Regions from separate parts of the Homo sapiens genome. Here region 2 is linked to region 1. The links come from fine-mapping of genetic effects on gene expression. Tissue or cell type: whole blood. Region 1 holds a variant in brackets; the other region holds the start of a gene. All regions are shown on one strand. Distances are between the middles of the regions.

The links. PIP is the estimated chance that this variant, and not a neighbour inherited with it, causes the effect.
Region 2: it holds the start of SMG9, and the variant in region 1 is fine-mapped to the expression of SMG9 in whole blood (INTERVAL, PIP above 0.99).

The regions. Positions count from the first base shown.
Region 1 is chr19:43,771,969-43,782,491 of GRCh38, forward strand. It overlaps KCNN4 (potassium calcium-activated channel subfamily N member 4), which reads right to left and starts at 9,005. Exons shown (of 9, transcript NM_002250.3): 1 at 8,735-9,005; 2 at 4,573-4,668; 3 at 2,224-2,651; 4 at 32-167. The coding sequence starts at 8,893. RefSeq lists a cis regulatory region at 2,639-2,678, enhancers at 5,837-6,337, 7,393-7,892, 8,251-8,380 and silencers at 6,584-6,633, 8,987-9,256. The variant T/C (reference allele first, on the strand shown) is at 6,911.
Region 2 is chr19:43,751,135-43,761,076 of GRCh38, forward strand. SMG9 (SMG9 nonsense mediated mRNA decay factor) reads right to left here and starts at 3,828. Exons shown (of 14, transcript NM_019108.4): 1 at 3,520-3,828. RefSeq lists an enhancer at 2,759-3,018 and a silencer at 3,249-3,608.

The DNA of each region.
Region 1 (10,523 bases):
GGGATCATGTCCCCAAGGCAGCTGTACTCACCATGACTCCAGTGCACAGGCAGACGATCTTGCCCCACATGGTGCCCGGCACCACGTCACCATAGCCGATGGTCAGGAATGTGATGGGGATCAGCCAAAGTGTGTCTGAAAGGTGCCCAGTGGCATTAACAGCCTGCCTATGGGGAAGGGTAGGTTAGTTCTAAAACCCCACCATAGAGGTTTCCATGATATTCACTCCCCTTCCCTCTATACCCTCCCATCCCCTTCCCTCTGGTTCCCTCCCTTCCCCTCCCAGTATACACCCATAGTCCTAAGAATCACCTGGACAAAAAGCCATTAAGTTCTGAGCTTTGGAAAGCCTGCATGGCCTCCTCTCTGCTGTGTGACCTGGGCAAGTTGCTTAGCCACTCTGGGATTTGAGACTGGGTCTGGCCAATCCCAATGCCGGTATGGTCTCAGCTAGGCTACCCGGGCTGCTGTAGCATTCAGAGCGTGTGGTTGAGGGTGGAGAGTCGATAGGGGGCCAAAACCCAGTCAGACCCTGACTGGTGGCTACATCCACCCAGAGGAAGGGGTATATTTTTCTAATTTCCACAAAGATGCTGTGTGGTCCAGAAGTGGCCCTATCAGGACCAAAAAGGACTCTAAAAAGGCTTGGTGGGACTCGGCCTTCCTTTCCTCTCACTTCACAGAGGAGACATTTAAGTCCAGCCATGGAAGGGGTTGAAACATTGAGATTTGTCTAACTTTGTCCACAGGCCCCTTGCCGCAAGACCAGCAGGGAAAGCTTCATTCATGAGGGCCCCTGACACCCCAGACCCACCGGGTTGGAGTTTCTAGGAGCGAAGATGGAATCTGTACTGTTCACAAACCCCACCCCCTCATTCCGAAGTACATTCTAGTTTCAGGACTTCTGCCTTGGAATGTGGAACTTTGACTTCCTCCCCATTCTCCCATCATTCAATTGAGAAACATGGTGGGGGGATCATTCATTAATCCTGATTCTGACCAATTTCCCAATTGTGAAAACTAAGATCCTGGAAGGTGAAGGAGTTTAAACTCATGACAGAGGGCGGGCATGGTAATCCCAGCACTTTGGGAGGCTTAGGCAGGAGGATCACTTGAAATCAAGAGTTCAAAACCAGCCTGGGCAACACGGTAACGTGGTCTCTACTAAAAATACAAAAACTAGTCAGGCATGGTGGTGCACATCCGTAATCCCAGCCACTAGGGAGGCTGAGGCATGAGAATTGCTTGAAGCCGGGAGGCAGAGGTTGCAGGGAGCAGAGATTGTGCCACTGCACGCTAGCCTGGATAATTGAGACTCCAGATCAAAAAACAAGAACTGCCAGGGAGACTACAGATGGTGGAACGTGACATGCATTTTTCAGATGAGGAAACTGAGGCTCAGAGAGGAGAGATCTAAAGCCAGATCTTCTCATTCTCCTCCTGCCCTGAAGGATCTTTGCCACATACACTAGACCAGAGGTTCTCAACCTTGGTTGGGCCATAGAATCACCTGGAAGGCTTGCTAAAGTGGATTGCTGGCCCTACCCTCCAGGATTCAGTAGGTCTGGAAGGGACCTGAGAGTTTTCATTTGCAAGTTCCCAGGTGATGCTGCTGGTCTTGAAATCACACTTTGAGGACCACTGGCTGAGATCACTCCCAACCTCGTTTTTCTCTGAAAGGGATAGAAATTGAGGCGCGGCATCGGGTTACACAGTATCTAGCTGGCAACCAGGATCTAGTTCCAATTCCCTGCTTGGAATTATTTTCCAGAGCAGTTCCAAATCATCCCCTTCCTAGGATCACAAAAAGCACCTACCTACAGTGCATTCCGTGCTAATTGGGAAAATATGTCTCCTTCCTCCAAGGCAGAGGCAACCCTTTAGGCAGGTCCCAGAGATAGGTTCGGAGACCGAACAGATGGCCTGTAAACCTGAGGCAGAGGTCAGGCAGCCGGAAGGGAGGGGCTTTCTAGGGTCTGTGTGTGCGTTTGGGGAGACTGAAGGCTGCAGGTGGAGGATTGGCTGGGGGCTTGTCTGTTGGTTCCTCTCACCCCAGTTGATGGGAGTGTGGGCAAATTTCAGCCAGCAAGAGGAGAAGGGGTCAAAGTGTGAACTTTCTCCACTGCTTGGTCCTAGGGGGCCTCAACCTGCACCGCGGCACAGGACGGCCGCCGTGGCTGTCCGGGGTTCCCCCCTGCGCATTTATGCCTCCATCACCCTCACCTCTCGGCCACGGACAGCACCCAGGCGGTGGTCAGCCAGAGGCCAAGCGTGAGGCCGAGCAGCAGGCGGCCAGGGTGCGTGTTCATGTAAAGCTTGGCCACGAACCAGTGGCGGAAGCGGACTTGATTGAGAGCGCCGATGCTGCGGTAGGAAGCGTTGAGCAGGACGCCGCTGCGCAGGAGCACGGCGCGGGGCACCAGGTAGAGACGCAGCAGCATGGCCAGGGACAGCAGCGCTTCCCCTTGGCCCAGGAATCCCGGCCAGGGCTGCGGGGAGGTCAGCGGCGCCCCTAAATCCTGCACGCACGGCGGGCCCCGCACGGGCGCCGGGTGCAGCCCACACACCACCAGCTCCAGCACGATCTGCGCCGCCTGCCGCCCGGTCAGCGCCACGCGCCAGTCCCGCAGCCCGTTGTCGGTCATGAACAGCTGCCGGTAGGGGGCCAAGAAGGGAGGGGTCAGGAGCAGGTCAGGCGCAGGTCAGGCGGCGGCCCGCGCCTGCCTGCGCCCTGAGATAAGTGGGGTGTGCCGCCTGGCCAGGAGGGAGGGAGTGCAGGGCGGGAGAGGGATAGGGAGGGAGCGGGACAGGACTTGAGGAAGACATCTTTCCACTTTTTCCTCCTTCCCCACCACCCACCCCACTAGTTTCAGCCCACTTCCAGCCTTTGAACACTGACTGAGCGCCGACTGTGTGCCTGACATTGTTCTATGTGCTAAGGATACACAGTGAACCCAACAGACCCCCCTGCCTCCCTAGAGCTTGCATTCCACATGCCTGGAGCTCGCTCCTACTCCCCTTTCGGTTGACACGCGTAATAACTGTAATAATAATATCAGCAATAACAAAGCCATGGGCCGGGCGCGATGGCTTACGCCTGTAATCCCAGCACTTTGGGAGGCTGCGGTGGGTGGATCACTTGAGGTCAAGAGTTTGAGACAAGCCTGGCCAACATGGTGAAACTCCATCTCTACTGAAAAATACAAAAATAAGCCGGGCATGGTGGCGCACACCTATAGTCCCAGCTTCTGGGGAGTCTGAGGTAGGAGAATCACTTGAACCCAGGAGGCAGAGGTTGCAGTGAGCTGAGGTCATGCCACTGCACTCTAGCCTGGGTGACAGAGCGAGACTCCATCTCAAAATAAACAAAACAATAACAATAACAAAATCAGCATGTACTGGGCACCGTGGATACGCCAGGTACTGCTCTATCCCGTTTACATATTGTGACTTAGTAAATGCCCACAACCCAGTGAGATTGATATTATTATTGCCCCCATTTTATAGATGTGGAAGCTGAGGCCCAGGTCCCTTCCATGGGCAATGGCGCACTGGGCTACAGGCTACTTAGCTACTCTATGATAAGATGATAATGTGCACTGTTTACTGAGCACCTCTTATGTGCCAGGCACTGCTCATAGAATTGCCACACATGGCCAATAATCCCCATTTTACATGCAAAGTTATGATAGGAGAGGGGGAAGAGGGGAAAGGGAATGGAGCAACAGGATCTGGGGCAATGGGACAATAGGGGATGGGATGTGTCTGGGTGAGACCCAAGGTGGGGTATGGATGGGGAGAGCTCCTGGGTCTGGGGCAAGAGGGAGGTTATTGGCACAGAGATAGGGTGATTAGGAGTGGGCACCCCTGGGACCGGACCAGGTGCAGTGGCTCAAGCCCGTAATCCTAGCACTTTGGGAGGACAAGGTGGGCAGACTGCTTGAGCTCAGTAGTTGGAGACCAGCCTGGACAACATAGTGAAACCCCGTTTCTACTAAAATACAAAAAAATTAGCTGGGCGTGGTGGCATCTGCCTGTAGTCACAGCTACTTGGGAGGCTGAGGCATGAGAATTGTTTGAACCCAGGAGGTGGAGGTTGCAGTGAGCAGAGATCGTGCCACTCCACTCTAGCCTGGGCAACAGAGCAAGACCTTGTCTCAAAAAAAAAAAAAAAAAAAAAAAAAAAAAGGAGTGGGCAGCCCTAGGACCTTAGGTTGCTTGAGGACTGGATTGGGGATGCCATGTCGGAGCACAGAGATCTGGGAAGCTGAGTGCCTGGGAGCAGAGTGGACAGAGGCCTGGGGGCGGAAGCAGGGCTGCAAGGGCACTCTCAGCATCCGTGAGTGTGCAAGGGGGGGCTGGGGACTACAGGGGAAGGCGGAGCTGGTGGGGGAGGCTCTGCCTGTCTGCTCATGGTTCATCCCATCTGGGTAGGTGAGGGTGTGGACGCAGCACCTAGGGCAGAAGAACTTCATTACTCAGATCAGGAGGAGGAGGAGGGTGGAAAGTGTGAGCTGACAGGGCGCTGAGGGGGTTGGAGGGAGCAAGGCTTAGGGGCGGGGCCTGCCCTACCTGGACCTCTTTGGCATGAAAGGCCACGATGAGGCAGAGGAGTAAGAAGGTGGAAATGCTGATCGTGCATTTAACCAGGAACAGGTAGAGCGCCCACTGTCAGGGGGGACGGAAAAAGCGGTGTGAGATCCCAGGTCTCCCTCCGCCTGGCCCTCCACCTTTCCTTCAAAACCACCATTTTTTTTTTTTGATTCCCAATTTTCCTAGCCTCCTTCCCCTGCAAATCAGTCCCTCTTGATGTGTCGGTTCTGGAGAAGTCTCAAAACCATCATCTGGGCCCAGTGCGGTGGCTCACACCTGTAATCCCAACACTCTGGGAGGCTGAGGCAGGTGGATCACCGAAGGTCGGGAGTTTGAGACCCCCTGGCCAACATGGTGAAACCCAGTCTCTACTAAAAAAACAAAAAATTAGCTGGGTGTGTAATCCCAGCTACTTGGGAGGCTGAGGAACCAGAATCTTGAACCCAGGAGGTGGAAGTTGCAGTGAGCTGAGAGATCGCGCCACTGCACTCCAGCCTGGGCAACAGAGCGAGTCTCCGTCTCGAAACAAGCAAGCAAGCAAACAAACAAACAAAAAAACACCATCATCTGGTCCCCAGGAATGCTCTCTTTCTCCCCAACAGGACAACCCTGTCCAGATGCTGGTGTCTACCCTCTTCCTCAGCTCTTCTCCCAAGACCCATACCCATGAAGGGGGACCTTGAAACTCACATTCCTTCTTATTCCTGTCCCATTTCACATCAAAAATAGTTCTTCAGGTGTGTGTGTGTGTGTGTGTGTGTGTGGGTGTGTGTGTGTGGTGTCTAGAAAAAGACATCTAGCCTCTAGAGAGTGCCCCCTCCCCTTCCCTTCCTACCCACCTGGTGTTGTCCTAGAAACCAACTTCAATCAACCCCAACCCCAGATCTGGAAGAATGTAGAAACTACCATTCAATCCTCAAAGACTGAGTCACACCCTTCTCTGCTCTCATCCGGAGGGCTGAGTCCCTGAGACCCAGCCTCAGCTCTGAGACAGCCCCCTCGGTTCTGCCCCCCTGCAGCTCCCCACTGCCACCCCTCTCTTCTGGCTCTAAGCCCAGGGCAGATCTGGCCGGAAGCACAGGGCCTCCAGAAACCACGGAGAAATTGTTCCTTTTTTTTTTTTTCCTCTCTTTGTGTGGCACAACCTTGGAGGAATCTAGAATTCTGGAGAGAGGGATTTAGAGGGGACTGGGACTGTTGGATTTCCTAAGAGGGGTTGGTCCCTGCCTGGCGGGTATTTGCAGGGGGAGGGGACCACCTGGGCGTCCTTACAAAGCATTGCACCTGTTTCTCCTAAGAGGGCTGCCAGCTCCCCTGGCTGGGCCAGCATCCCGCCTCTGAGCAGGGGAAGAGGGCCAGTTTCCTGCCCCAGGGGCCTGCTCCCCAACCCCCTATCAGAACAATAGTGCTGTTGTCACCAGCCCTCCCCCACCTTCTATGGCTCCCTGGTTCCCTGCCTCTTTCTTCAGTCTGTCTTAACTGCCCACACCACTAGACAACAAGCTCCCTCCTCACACTGCAATTTGCTTCTCTGGTGGTCCTCTCTACTTTTCCATTTCCTCTTCCCCCAAATCCCGGACCTGTCTGCACTTGGGCCTGTACTCTGTTCTCTGAATTTCCCTGTCTCTAGGGATGGTTGTTGCTGTCTTTCTATGTGTTTTGAGGGTCTTTGTTTCTATTGTCTCTTTTTTTTTTTGAGACGGAGTCTTGCTCTGTCACCCAGGCTGGAGTGCAGTGGCACGATCTTGGCTCATTGCAAGCTCCGCCTCCTGGGTTCACACCATTCTCCTGCCTCAGCCTCCTGAGTAGCTGGGACTACAGGCACACGCCGCCATGCCTGGCTAATTTTTTGTGTTTTTAGTAGAGATGGGGTTTCACTGTGTTAGCCAGGATGGTCTCGATGTCCTGACCTTGTGATCCGCCCACCTCGGCCTCCCAAAGTGCTGGGATTACAGGCGTGAGCCACCGCGCCCGGCCCTCTATTGTCTTTTCTAACGCTGTGTGTGTATCTCTCACTGGTGGATTTCTCAGTAGCTTGATAGCCCTATTTGTCTTTCTCTTTAGCTGTACTTCTCTATCTTTCTGCATTTTTGTCTCCATCTCTCTTTTTCTCTCCATGTATCTCTGTGTCTCTGTCTCTCTCTGTACCTCTCCCCATCCCTCCTCCTCCACCCCACCTGGTGCTTTTGGATATCTCTATCCAGTTCCCTTGGACTCCCTAGGGTTTTGCACCTGCCTCTCTGCCAGCCCCTCCCCCTGGGGAGCAGGTGTCTGGGTCCTTTGCAGAAATGAGCTCATTAGATTGAGATGGAGGTGG[T/C]GAGGGGCGGTGGATGTTATTAAGAGAGTCCTCAAAAGGGGACTGAGGAGCTGTGGCTCAGGCCTGTAATCCCAGCACTTTGAGGCAGGAGGATTGCCTGAGTCCAGGAGTTCAAGACCAGCCTAGGCAACAAAGCAAGGTCCCATCTCTACATAAAATAAAAAGGGTGGAGGGTGACCCTTAGGGTCATGTATTTTAACCCTCACCCCAATTTACAGATGGGGAAACTGAGGTTCAGAGGGTTGTAACAGCTTCCCCAAGGTCCCACTGATAGAGGCAGTGGCCTGGCCATGGTGGAGGGAAGGAAGAAATGAGGGGTGAGAAAGCAGAGGGGTGAAGTGGGGTAGGATGGACCCCGTCTCTTCCCATCTGCCAGGGTCACTGTGTTCCCACCTCGGCTTCTGGGTGCGGTGCTTCGGCGTGGGAGCGGCGGGCAGGCCCCGGCCATGCTTCCTGTTGGCATGGACTTCGGCGGCCCCACCCCCTCAGTGCCCGCCGCCTGCCAGAGGAAGCTGCATGCCTGACCCTCCATGTGGCTCCTGGTCACTTCAGAGCTGCCCACCACCCCCTCCAGATCCAAGTCGGAACATCAGACCCTCAGGAATCTACCCAATCTTCATATCAGTGTCCGCATCTGGCCCTACCAGCCCAGTTCCACAACCCTTCTGCCAGAGAGGTCTCCAGCCCCTCCTTTCCTGTTGAGCAAGTCTGTTCTCCCCTCAAGCCACTTATTCCAACCCTTGTCCTTGATCTGCCCCATCACTGGCCTGACCAGGGCTGGAATGTGACGGGAGCCTGCTGAGACCTGCCCTGACCCCACTTTCCCCTTTCTTCCCTACTCACCACTCATCTTCGGAGTCAGCCCCTCTTCCCCAAAAGCAATCAAAACCCCCTTCTCCTTAAGACTCAGGAATCCAGGACCCAGCCCCCTCCTCTCCTGGTACCTAGGAGTCCAGGCCACTGTAAGCCTACCTCTCCACTATTTCCCTGACTAATCAGCATGCAGATTTGGGGAGAAATTGAGCTTGTTAACAGTGGAGACTGGGTTGGGGTTGGTGGGGGGAGGCAGGTCGGGGGAGAGGTTTGTTTCCCATTTCCCATCCCCACCCCCAAGGCAGTTTTTTCTGTCCTTTGCATCTAAGGCACTGGGTAAACATTAGAGGTTAGACAAGGACCAAAGAGCTGCCGCCTACTGGAAGAACTTTGTCTTTCCTCCACTCTCCCTTCACCAAACCTGGGGCTACCTCTCCCCTTATTGGCTCTTGGGGGGCTTGAGTGTCTGATCAGCCACCCTCTGGCCTCCAGGGGTCCTGGACCTCTGGCCGTCTAATGGCAACATCTTCAAAGACTGAAACACTGAAACAAATATTCCCTTCCTTTTGCAGAGAAGGACCCCAGCAACTGTCTCCTGGGAGCACCCAGGAGTCCCAGCCAAAGCCCCTCCTCCCTCAGACCCAAGAGTCTAGGCCCCCAACCTCTCCTCCCTCAGATCCAGGAGTCCTGACCCCCAGCCCCTCCTCCCTCAGACCCAGGAGTCCAGACCCCAGCCCCTCCTCCCTCAGACCCAGGAGTCCTGACCCCCAGCCCCTCCTCCCTCAGACCCAGGAGTCCAGGCCCTCAGTCCCTCCTCCCTCAGACCCAGGAGTCCAAGTCCCCAGTCCCTCCTCCCTCAGACCCAGGAGTCCTGACCCTCAGCCCCTCCTCCCTCAGACCCAGGAGTCCTGACCCCCAGCCCCCCCTCCCTCAGACCCAAGAGTCCTGACCCCCAGCCCCTCCTCCCTCAGACCTAGGAGTCCCAGCTCCCAGCCACCATGCCCCACTCACCGAGCACCCCCCGAACCACAGCATCTCTGCATGCAGCACCATGAGTCCAATGCCAGTTCCTGCCAGCACCAGTGCCCAGCCGGCCAGAGACTTCTCCTGCTCCAGCAAGCGCTTTCGGCGTCTCAAGGCCCCCAGGCCAAGCACCAGATCCCCGCCCATGGCCCCCGGGGTCTTGGGGCTCAGCCAGCTTCCTGCCCAGGGTCCCCCACCTCGCAGCACGCACAGGGCAGCCACTGTGGCTTGCAGGTCGTCAGCCTGCTCTGCTGGCTCTGGGACTTTTGCTCTGAGGCACAGCAGAGCCCTGTGCCCTCTGGGGAGTGGTGACGGCCAGGCAGGGCGGGGAGGGGCAGGGGAGGCCCCAGGGTAGGGGGAGGCTCCCCAGCTCCCCCTTTTGAGAATAAGGAGGGGCTAGGGTGTGTCTTGGGGCAGAGCAAGAAAGAGACGTCCATCCACGTGGATAAAGACACACACAGACACACGATGGGCTTTGTCACACACAATGGTCTGTACTTTGTGACACACACCTCTACTCACCACACCCAGACACCGAAGGACACTCCACAGCCCAAGACGGAGACTAACACACCAGGGCACACAACACAACCTACACAGAGTGACTCACAACTCCCAGCAAGCTCTGAAACCCACAGCCACACCCAGACACCACACACATGGTGTGACACACACCAGCACTTAGCAAGCAGGCAGTATCCCGTGGCACACACAGCCACCCAAACACCGTCCACACACAGGCACAAATATTACACTCAAAGTTGTCACAACTTTCTCTGACACAAAGAGCCACACCCAAACACCACAAATAGGACGATGCACAACTGTGGCCACACAAACACAACATACACCAGGTGTTACACAAACACACAATATATATTAAAGTAGTGACGCCCTGATGCCACACACCACACACCGACACAAACACTGTGCAGTCCCAGTTTCCTAAACACTACACACCCTTGGAACGAAACCCAATACGTGTAGACACACAACATTTAGGGACATACCTATAGTAGCCCCCAATCACCCAGAGCTAGAGAATTGCACATACATTGTGGCGCCTGTTGACTCGAACACAAGTGCTCGCAGTGATGATTCAAAACACGCACTGATTCAGCATGCTCTGATGTGTGGTGCGATTCAAATGTATGGTCAGAGGACAAGCTGAGTGGATGCATGCAGAGACCTACAAGGTACAGCGACACACGGAGAAACCCAAGAAGCACATGCCTGAAGCAAGATGATTCTGGTATATTCTGGCCACACAGGACAACATCCAGGATGATGCCCTGGGGGAAGGGGATGGGGTTGGACCTTCATAGACCCCAGTGCCCAAATGCAACATACGGCTGGGTGCAGTGGCTCATGCCTGTAATCCCAGCAGTTTGGGAGGTTGAGGTGGGAGGATTGCTGGAGCCCAGGGGTTTGAGACCAGCCTGGGCAACATAGCAAGATCCTATCTCTAAAACAAGCAAAAACAAAAAAACAAACGCAACATACACCATCACCTCTGAGCCATGAGCCACACCCAAACATGACATACAATACCTCCACACAACCCAACACGTTATATTCCAACATGCGTGGCCACACAACAACATACGCGGAGTAATACACCAGCACACAGTAACGCAAAACACATAAACACAATGTTTTCCAACACACCCAACCTTCCACAAACGACCACATGTCCCATAAAACACCAGATGTCACCACTCACTGATACTACTGACACTGAGGTCTACCGCCACCCACACAACACCAGCATCGGGGG
Region 2 (9,942 bases), 21 kb before region 1:
CTTTCTTCTTTTTTTTGAGACAGAGTTTCGCTCTTGTCACCGAGGCTGGAGTGCAATGGCGTAATCTCGGCTCACTGCAGCCTCCACCTCACAGATTCAAGCAATTCTCCTGCCTCAGTCTCCTGAGAAGCTGGGATTACAGATGCCCACCACCACACCCGACTAATTTTTTTTGTATTTTTAGTAGAGATGGGGTTTCACCATGTTGGCCAGGCTGGTCTCAAACTCCTGACCTCAGGCAATCCACCTGCCTCAGCCTCCCAAAGGGCTGGGATTATAGGCGTGAGCCACCATGCCCGGCCAAGGCCCTTCCTTTCAACAGAGCTCTGGGCCTGTGGTAGCAACTGCAAGCTGGTTCCCAACATCCACTCCTGACTTCTTCCAAAAAAGTAAAACCCTCAGTTCTGAGCTAGGTACATGGCTATCCAGAACAAACTTCTCATCCTTGTTTGCAGTTAGGTGTGGCCATGTGAGTAAGTACTTTCTGGCTATGGTATGACACTAGAAGTGTGGCTTGGCAGCTTCCAGAAACTTCCCTTCACAGACTCTGGCACATGCCTTCTGCCCCTTCCTCCCAGTGACAGGAATGTGGGTGTGGAGGTTGGAGCTCAAGCAGCTATCCTGGGCTGTAAGGCAATTTAATGGAAGGTACAATAAAACAAGACACAAGGTTGGGGGGTTCCACGTTAACCTTGAATTGCCTACTTCGAGAGGCAGTGAAAAACAAATACACATCTATCTCTTACTTGCAGCCAAAACTATTCCCAACTATTAAAATGCTCCAACATAAATAAACTCACAGGGGCAAGTTCACATAAAAATAGGATATTCTCCTTACCAAAATGCAGCAAGGCATTTGCTTACAAACCAGCAATGTGATCCTCAGTCCAACAGCTACTCTTGATTAGTCATTACTAGTGTATGTCATGGTGGGGCTCCAGCCACTTACTAGTGTATGTCATGGTGAGGTTCCAACACTCAAGGGCCTATTTTCACCTGGTATCCCACTACATTTCAGTGTCTGTCTGTCTTCCGTTCCTGACGGTCTGCCTTCCCTCACAGTGAATTTCATTTCAAGGTGTCTCCAGTGTTTATTCTATTTGAGATGTTATATAATGTCTGGCTACCTATGCAACCCACTCTCCACCATTTCAGTATCTGTTTACAGGTCCTTAGAGAGTTTTCCCAGCTGTTCACACATCAGTCTAGGGTGGTATTTGACTACTTAACTGTTTGTAGAACTCAGTGGGGCTATCTGCTCAAGCTCAGAAGTCAGGTTGACAAAGTGTGGCCTAGGGGCCAAATCTGGTCTGCTTTCTGTTTTTGTAAATAGAAAGTTTTATCGGAACATGGCCACATCCATCAATTTAGAAACTGTCTGTGGCTGCCTTCTTGATGCAATGGCAGAGCTGAGACAGACAATACAGTCTGCAGGGCCTAAAATAATTATTCTCTGGCCTTAACAGAAAGTTTTACTGAATGGCCGAGTATGGTGGCTCACACCTGTAATCCCGACACTTTGGGAGGCCGAGACAGGAGGACTGCTTCAGCCCAGGAGTTCGAGACCAGCTTGGGCAACATAGCAAGATCCTGTCTCTATATAACATTTAAAAAAGAAAAAAGTAGCTGGGCGTGGTGACATGCACCTGTAGTCCCAGCTACTTGGGAGGCTGAGGTGGTGGGATCACTTGAGCCTGGGAGGTCAAGGCTGCCATGATCATGCTGCACCACTGCACTCTAGCCTGGGTAACAAAGCAAGACCCTGTCTAAAAAAAAAAAAAAGCAGAACCCTGTCTCAAAAAAACAGTTTGCTGACCCTTGCTTAGCTTGGAAGTATCTGTTAAATCCCTCCATGAATCCTCCCCTGCCCCACCTCATAATGACATAAACAGGTCCCTCCGAGACTCTCCAGAATGGAAGGGTCTGTTTACAAGATGCAGTCATAATTTTGCTAGCCAGACAAGTGGCTTGTCTAGCTCCTCTCCTACTGTGCTACATGACCTCTCCCAGAGCCACAAGCCAGGCTGAAGACTGCTTTCCTAGACAGAGGAGGACAAGGGCCTGTTTACAGCTGCTTAGGGAAAATGACTCATTCCATACCGAAATGACTGCTTAGTCTGGGATGGAGATTCTCCCCAGAATCTGAGACTCCTCCCTCACTTGCAATTAAGTGTCTTTACACATTATTCTGAAATCTACCCAGTGCTTAAGTACTTGTCTTCATGCCTCAATTGGGATACTGCCCAGCCCTGAGGTTTCTGTTTACTGGCCTATGAGGATGCCCTTTCCTGTGCAAAGTAAGCGCCCCTGTGTGAATGCTTTTCTTTTTTTTTTTTTTTTTTTTTTGAGACGGTCTTGCTCTGTTGCCCAGGCTGGAGTGCAGTGGCACGATCTCAGCTGGCTGCGGCCTCTGCCTCCCGGGTTCAGGCAATTCTCCTGCCTCAGCCTCCCAAGTAGGTGGGATTACAGGTGCATACCACCAGGCCGGGCTAAGTTTTGCATTTTCAGTAGAGACGGGGTTTCGCCATGTTGGCCAGGCTGGTATCGAACTCCTGGCCTCAAGTGATTCGCCAGCCTCGGTCTCCCAAAGTGATCGGATTCCCCGGGTAAGCCACCGCACCTGGCCTCCCTGTGCCCTTTATTCTGGGAGCTTCCACAGTATCTGAATGTGGGGAGTTCCTTGGAACTTAAAAGCCCACCTAAACCAGGTGTGGAGGATACAGTGAGCCGAGATCGTGCCACTGCACTCCAGCCTGGGCGACAGAGCGAGACTCTTGTCTCAAAGAAAAAAAAAAAAAACCCCACCCACATGCAAGCTGGGGACTTCCAATGCTGTTTCCGGGCTCCTTTGGGGATTACCCCCAAACTTAGGAAAGCTGGTCTATTTAAGTGTCTGCTGATGGACTTCTAGGGTGACTTCCCGAAAATTAACAAATCGAATTTACATATTTTTGGGGAGTGTCTCCTCAGTATTTAGGCATCGCTTCACACACTCCCTTCGGGGATCTCCCAGAACCTCACTATTTGCAAATATTTGGGGAGACTCTCCCGATTCCTGAGTATGTAAGCCCACTTCGTGGGGCACTCCCCAGCCCAGAACTGTAGTCGATTTGCACATTTTCCTAAGGACTCCCTAGGATTTAAACTTCTCTCTACGGGGTTCTAGAAGGGAGCCTCCCCCGGATTTAGGCATTGCTTTACAAAGCTTCCCTCGGGGAACCCAACTCAAGTTTCTCGTTACACGTTATTGGGGCGGCCTCCCCAGTACTTGACGGGCAGTTTGCAGGCTGTACTTGGATCTCGCAGAGCATAAGTTTCTCATTTACACGTTATTTCCGTCCCCCGCCCCCATTCCTGCCAACCCAGTATCGAATTGACGGTCGCCGGCCCCCTACTCAGTGCCGCACCCCCGCCGGACGTCCCAGCGACCTTTCAATGGCCAAGGCGGGGGCGGGGCCTGCCGGAGCGCCCCGCCCGCCGCCGGTGCGCTAGCCTCGCGCGGGCTCGCGGCCCCCTTACCTAACGCGGCTGCTGATTGGTTCTCGGGGCGCGGTGTGCGCTCTCCCGTGACGGGAGTCGGGTGGGGGCGGGGAGGCTGACCCAAGCCACCCGCCTGCAAATGGCGTCTGGGGGCCAGGAACGTGGGAAGGAGAGAAAATGGGCACTCCCCACTCCGAAACCGGCCTCGGCGTCCGGGTTGCAGCCCCTAAGGAAAGCTGGGCCGAAGGAAGAAGAGGAGGAGGATGTAACGCGGGCCCGAGCTGAGATCAGTTCCCTCAGGCGACTCGTCCTGCGCATGCGCTGAGGGCTGGAGCTCGAGAACTGAATGCGCTCGCCGGGCTGAGCGTGCGTGGATGGAGGCGGTCGGCTTCAGCACGCATGCGGGTTCCGGAGCGGGAGGCGGGAGGACGCCGCGGCTCTGACTCAATGCGCGTGCGCGCGGTTGGGGGGTTGAGGGTGGGGAGATGAGTAGGGAAATGGATACGCCGAGGAGCCGGCAGGAGGGAGAGCGGCCCGGATCTGGGGTTCGAGTTGTGCCTCTTCGGTGATGTTGGCGGGATGCAGTGGGGTGGGACGACAGGGAGGAATTTCACTGTTCTGGGCTGAGTGCCAAGAACACATGAATGAATCAGACTTGGCGTGCGCCCTGGAAGACACCCCGGCCTGTGGAGAGACTGCCAGGGCCTCAAATCACTTAGGAAAGGGCGCGGGTCCGGTTGGACCTTGAAGGACAGGCAGGCGAGGGTACTCCAGGGAACAGCTAAGCAAAGGCGGCGAAGACCCCGGGGGAAGAGGTCTAGACTGGCTTGGATTCAGGGTCCACCTGGGTGGGAGGTGAGGCAGCAGAATGGGCAGGTCAGACCCTGAAGGGTCTCCAGTGTCAGTTTTATCCTTAAGGCCTGGGAGATGCAGAATAGTCTGAGACAGAACTATGTTTAAAACCCTCGAAGGCCGCGTTGGAGAAGGGAATCCGCTCCAGGGTCGAAAATTTAAACACACGTGGGCGGAGTCTTGCGCGCGCCAAAGAGGAACATTGGGCGACGGGCGCGGCCTGGAGAGCGCATGCGCATTCGGAAGGGTCGGCAGTTCCCCAGTGGGCAGAGTGGGTGGATGGGAAGGTTCTAGCTTTTTATTTGAAATTTTATTTATTTTTATTTTATTTATTTATTTAGAGACGGAGTCTCGCCCTGTCACCCAGGCTGGCGTGCAGTGGCGAGATCTCGGATCACTGCCGTCTCCACCTCCTGAAATTCAAGCGATTCTCCTGCCTCAGCCTCCCAAATAGCTGGGATTACAGGCGTCCACCACGCCTGGCTAATTTTTTGTATTTTTAGTAGAGACTGGGTTTTGCCATGTTGGCCAGGCTGGTCTCGAACTCCTGACCTCAAGTGATCCGCCCGCCTCGGCCTCCTAAAGTGCTAGGATGACAGGCGTGAGCCACCGTGGCTGGTCTAAAAAAAAGTTTTTTAAAATTATATTTGAACAGGTATTACATGTACATACACAATTCAAACCTCTCTGGCTGTATACAATAAAAGTAAGTTTCCACCTCTGGTTCCCATTTTCCTTTCCTAAAGCACTGGTTCCCGGTTTCCTTCTGGAGCTGCTGTTATAATAAAGCATTGGAGTTAAGAGCATGTGTTGAGTTCATATAAATAGCGGCTGAGCTTGACCAAGTGACTTAATACTCTCTACTTCTACGTCCCTGTTTGTGAATTGGGTGTGGTATAACCTTACTTACAACATTGCCGCCAGCATTAAATGGGTGAGAGTGCATAGAACAGTGCCTGTTGCCTAATGGTACTGTGTGTTGTCTCTGTGTATTATTTTGTGGTCTACCATGCTGATAGTTGTAGATTCTGAGCAGCCCTCTCCCCTCCAGGCCTCATCCCTACTGTCATTGTCCCAGTACCAGTACCAGGTGGAGCCACCTCTCCAGGCTGCCACAGGTAGAAACACCAGTCACCCAGAATGACTTGAGTCCACTGTTGATGGATTCTGGGGAAAGATTCTGGGTGTTTGATAAAGATACACATGACAGGCCATCTCTGTATTATGTCTATCAGTGTCCAATTTTACTTCTTCAGCTCAGGCCATATCTGAATTTCTCAACCCCAGATCACTCACGATTGCCAGTTTCACGTCAGGGCAACCCTCAGAGGTAGAATTTTCTTAAAAGAGGGAAAGAGGAGGCCTGGCATTGACCTTGGACCCACTGTGTACCAGGCTGTGTGCTCTCTGCTTTATATACATCACTATAATCTTCTCCCCTAATTTGTTTAACAGATGTTGGTCCGCGCAGTGACTCACGCTTGTAATCTCAGCACTTTGGGAGGCCGAGGCAGGCAGATCACCTGAGGTCAGGAGTTCAAGACCAGCCTGGCCAACATAGCGAAACCCCATCTCTACTAAAAGTACAAAAATTAGCCGGGTGTGGTGGCATGCGCCTGTAATGCCAGCTGCTCGGGAGGCCGAGGCACGAGAATCACTTGAACCCAGGAGGTGGAGGTTGCAGTGAGCTGATATCGCACCACTGCACTCCAGCCTGGGTGACAGAGTAAGGCTCTGTCTCAAAAAAAAAAAAAAAAAAAAAAAAAAACAGATGTAGACAAATGAGCCTGGAAGAGAGAAGGGCCTTACCGAAGTCCCCATAGGCAGGAAGCAGCAGGGCCTGGATTCAAACCCGGGCCTGGATTCAAACCCAAGCCTGTCTCACTCCAGAGCAAGCCTACACTTTTTCCCTGGCACCGGGGAGCCAGCCTGGTGATGAGTCAGCAGTACAGTCAGGCACCCAGTGAGCTGCCTTTTGTATTAGTGGCATGGTATGCTGTTCTGGAGATATATCATACTTTAACACTTTCTCTGTTGATGAGCATTTAGACTGTTGCTGAACTTCTGCTCTTACAAACATTTACTGCAGGGGTTTGTGTGTATGTTTCTGTTTTCTAATTTTTTCTTTTTCAGACATGTTCTTGCTGTCTCGCCCAGGCTGGAGTCATGTAATACAGTTGTGGCTCACTGCAGCCTCAACCTCCTGGGCTTAAGCAATCCTCCCACCTCAGCCTGAGGAGTAGCTGGGACCACAGGCATGTGCTACCACACCCAGCTAATTTTCTATTTTTTGTAGAGACGGGGTTTCACTATGTTGCCCAGGCTGTCTCAAACTCCTGGCTCAAGCAGTCCTCCTGCCTCAGCCTCCCAAAGTGCTGAGATTATGCTACAGTTAATATCCTGGTACACGTGGCTGCATGTATATGTTAGTATTGTCAGTAGACTATCTCATTTGAAGTGCAAGTAGAATTGCTGGGTCAAAGGGTATGCACATTGGGAATTTTGAGAGCCATTGCCAAATGATCTGTTCATGTCTTTATTTTTTGTTTTTGAGACAGGGTCTCCCTCTGTCACCCAGGCTGGAGTACAGTGGCATGATCATAGCTCACTGCAGCCTCAGCTTCCCAGGTTCAAGCAATTCTCCTGTCTCAGCCTCCCGAGTAGCTGAGACTACAGGCATGTGCCACCACACCCGGCTAATTTTTGTATTTCTTGTAGAGACAGAGTTTCACCATGTTGCCGAGGCTGGCCTCAATCAATCCTTCCACCTCAGCTTCCCAAAGTGCTGGGACTACAGGTGTGAGCCACTGCGCCTGGCCCTGTTCATCTCTTTTTCACTTTTTGTTCATTTCTTTCATTTATATGTTGAATGAATTATGGAACTCTAGTCATCTGCCAGGCACAGCTGTAGGCTGGAGATCCTGTAATGAATAGGAAAAGCACCTGCCCTTTGGGAGCAGATATTCTAGTGGGGCAGATGACATCAGATAAAGGATGCTTGGAAGAAAAGAAAATCGGGGGTGAGGATTGGGAAGACATTGCAAAGGATACAAAATTTCATTTAGACAGGAGGAATAAATTCAAGAGATCCAGTCCACAACATGGTAACTATAGTTAGTAACAATGTATACTTGAAAATTGCTAAGAGGATAAATTTTCAGTGTCCTCACCACAAAAATGATAAATATGTGAAATAATGCATATGTTAATTAGCTTGATTTAGCCATTGTACAATGTATAAATATACAAAACATGTTGTACACCATAAATATATACAATTTTTATTTTTCAATTAAAAATAAAGTCAGGTGCCGGGCGCAGTGGCTCACGCCTGTAATCCCAGCACTTTGGGAGGCCGAGGCGGGCAGATCATAAGGTCAGGAGATCGAGACCATCCTGGCTAACATGGTGAAACCCCGTCTCTACTAAAAATACAAAAAATTAGCCAAGCGTGGTGGCGGGCGCCTGTAGTCCCAGCTACTCCGGAGGCTGAGGCAGGAGAATGACATGAACCTGGGAGGCGGAGCTTGCAGTGAGCCAAGATCGCACCACTGCACTCCAGCCTGGGCAACAGAGCGAGACTCTGTCTCAAAAAAAAAAAAAAAAGTCAGGTTACAGGAATTGACAGTGATAGAGGTCACAGAGAGTGACAGGTGGCCAGGGAAGGCCGCTTTGAGGGGATGACATTTGATCAGAGGCCTGAATGCAGTTAAGGAAGGTCAGGAAATGAGCCATCTAAAGATGCTGAAGAACGGCCAGTAAAAGACCCCAAAGTGGGAGTGGGCCTGGCTGTCCAAGGATGGTCAAGGTGGCCAGAGTGGCTGAAACAGAGCAAGGGAGGGAAAGAAGGGCAGGATTATTTAGAGACGGAGCTGTAGACAGGGCCAGTTTACATAAAGTCTTACAGGCCATGGTAAGCATTTGGAATTTACTTCCAAATGTAACAAAGCCATTGCAGGGCTACAAACAAGCACCGGCTTGTTCCAATTAATGTTTACAAAGACTTCTCCAGTGAACAACAAAAATTAACAGTGATTGCCTATAGGGATGAGGGTTATAGACAGATGTGGGTCAGGGCTATGGGAACTTAAAAAGCGTTGTTGTTTTTTTAAACCACGTAATTATTAGCTATGCGCAAAAATGTTCAGTGAAAACAGTGCTGGTTGCTGTGAGGAGAATGGCCTGCAGGGGCGGAAGCAGGAGATGAGAAAGCTGGTGTCCTTGCCTGGGCAAGAAAGGATAGTGGTTCTGGAAGAGGGTGGTGCTAATAGATGAGTTGAGAAGGGTCAGGAACTGGGATCTTTTTTGAAGGTAGCGCCAAGAAATTAAACATGGGGTGTGAGAGGAAGCATGAATCAGGGGTGACTTGAAAGTCATCCTAGAGATCTGTTGTACAACAGGGTGACTCTCATTCATAACAATGTGTTATATGCTTGAAACTTACTAAAATAATAGATTTTAAGTTTTCTCACACCACAAAAAAATAAGTATGTGAAATAATGCATATGTTAATTAGCTTGATTTAGCCATTCCACAATGTGTACATATATTAAAACATCATGTTATTTGCAGCATTAAAAAAAGTTCTAGCGGGGAGGGGGGAGGGATAGCATTAGGAGATATACCTAATGCTAAATGACGAGTTAATGGGTGCAGCACACCAGCATGGCACATGTATACATATGTAACAAACCTGCACATTGTGCACATGTACCCTAAAACTTAAAGTATAATAATAATTAAAAAAAAAAAGTTCGAGAGGTTTTGGTCCTGGCCAACTGCCTGAAGACTGAGACTTTTTTTTTTTTTTTTTTTTTTTTTTTTTTGAGATGGAGTCTTGCTCTGTCGCCCAGGCTGGAGTACAGTGGCGTGATCTCGGCTCACTGCAAGCTCCGCTTCCTGGGTTCATGCCATTCTCCTGCCTCAGCCTCCCGAGTAGCTGGGACTACAGGTGCCCACCACCACGCCCGGCTAATTTTTTTGTATTTTTAGTAGAGTCGGGGTTTCACCATGTTAGCCAGGATGGTCTCGATCTCCTGACCTCGTGATCCACCCGCCTCAGCCTCCCAAAGTGCTGAGATTACAGGCGTGAGCCACCACGCCCGGCCTAAGACTGAGGCTTTTTACCGGGATGAGGAAAAGTACTTTTGATGGGAAATCAACAAGCTTTGAAATTCTTAACTTTGAGATGCACGTTGGTCATCAAATAAGTGGTTGGAGTTAGGGGAAAAAGCCGGGGTTTGTAGATAAAGACTTTCTGACTTTGCGTCACAGAATTTAGTTTAATTAATTAATTTATTTTGAGACAAAGTCTTGCACTGTCACCCAGGCTGGAATGCAATGGCACGATCTTGGCTCCCTGCAACCTCCACCTCCCGAGCTCAAGCAATCCTCCTGCCTCAGCCTCCCAAGTAGCTGGGACCACATATGCTCTAGCACACCCGGCTAATTTTTTAGAGATGAGGGTTCACTATGCTGCCTAGGCTGGTCTCGAACCCCTGGGTTCAAGCAATCCACCCCATCAGCCTCCCAAAGGCTGGGATTACAGTCACTACAGAGTTTTAAAAATACACACAAAGATGTTATGGTATGAAGAGACTCCCACGTACC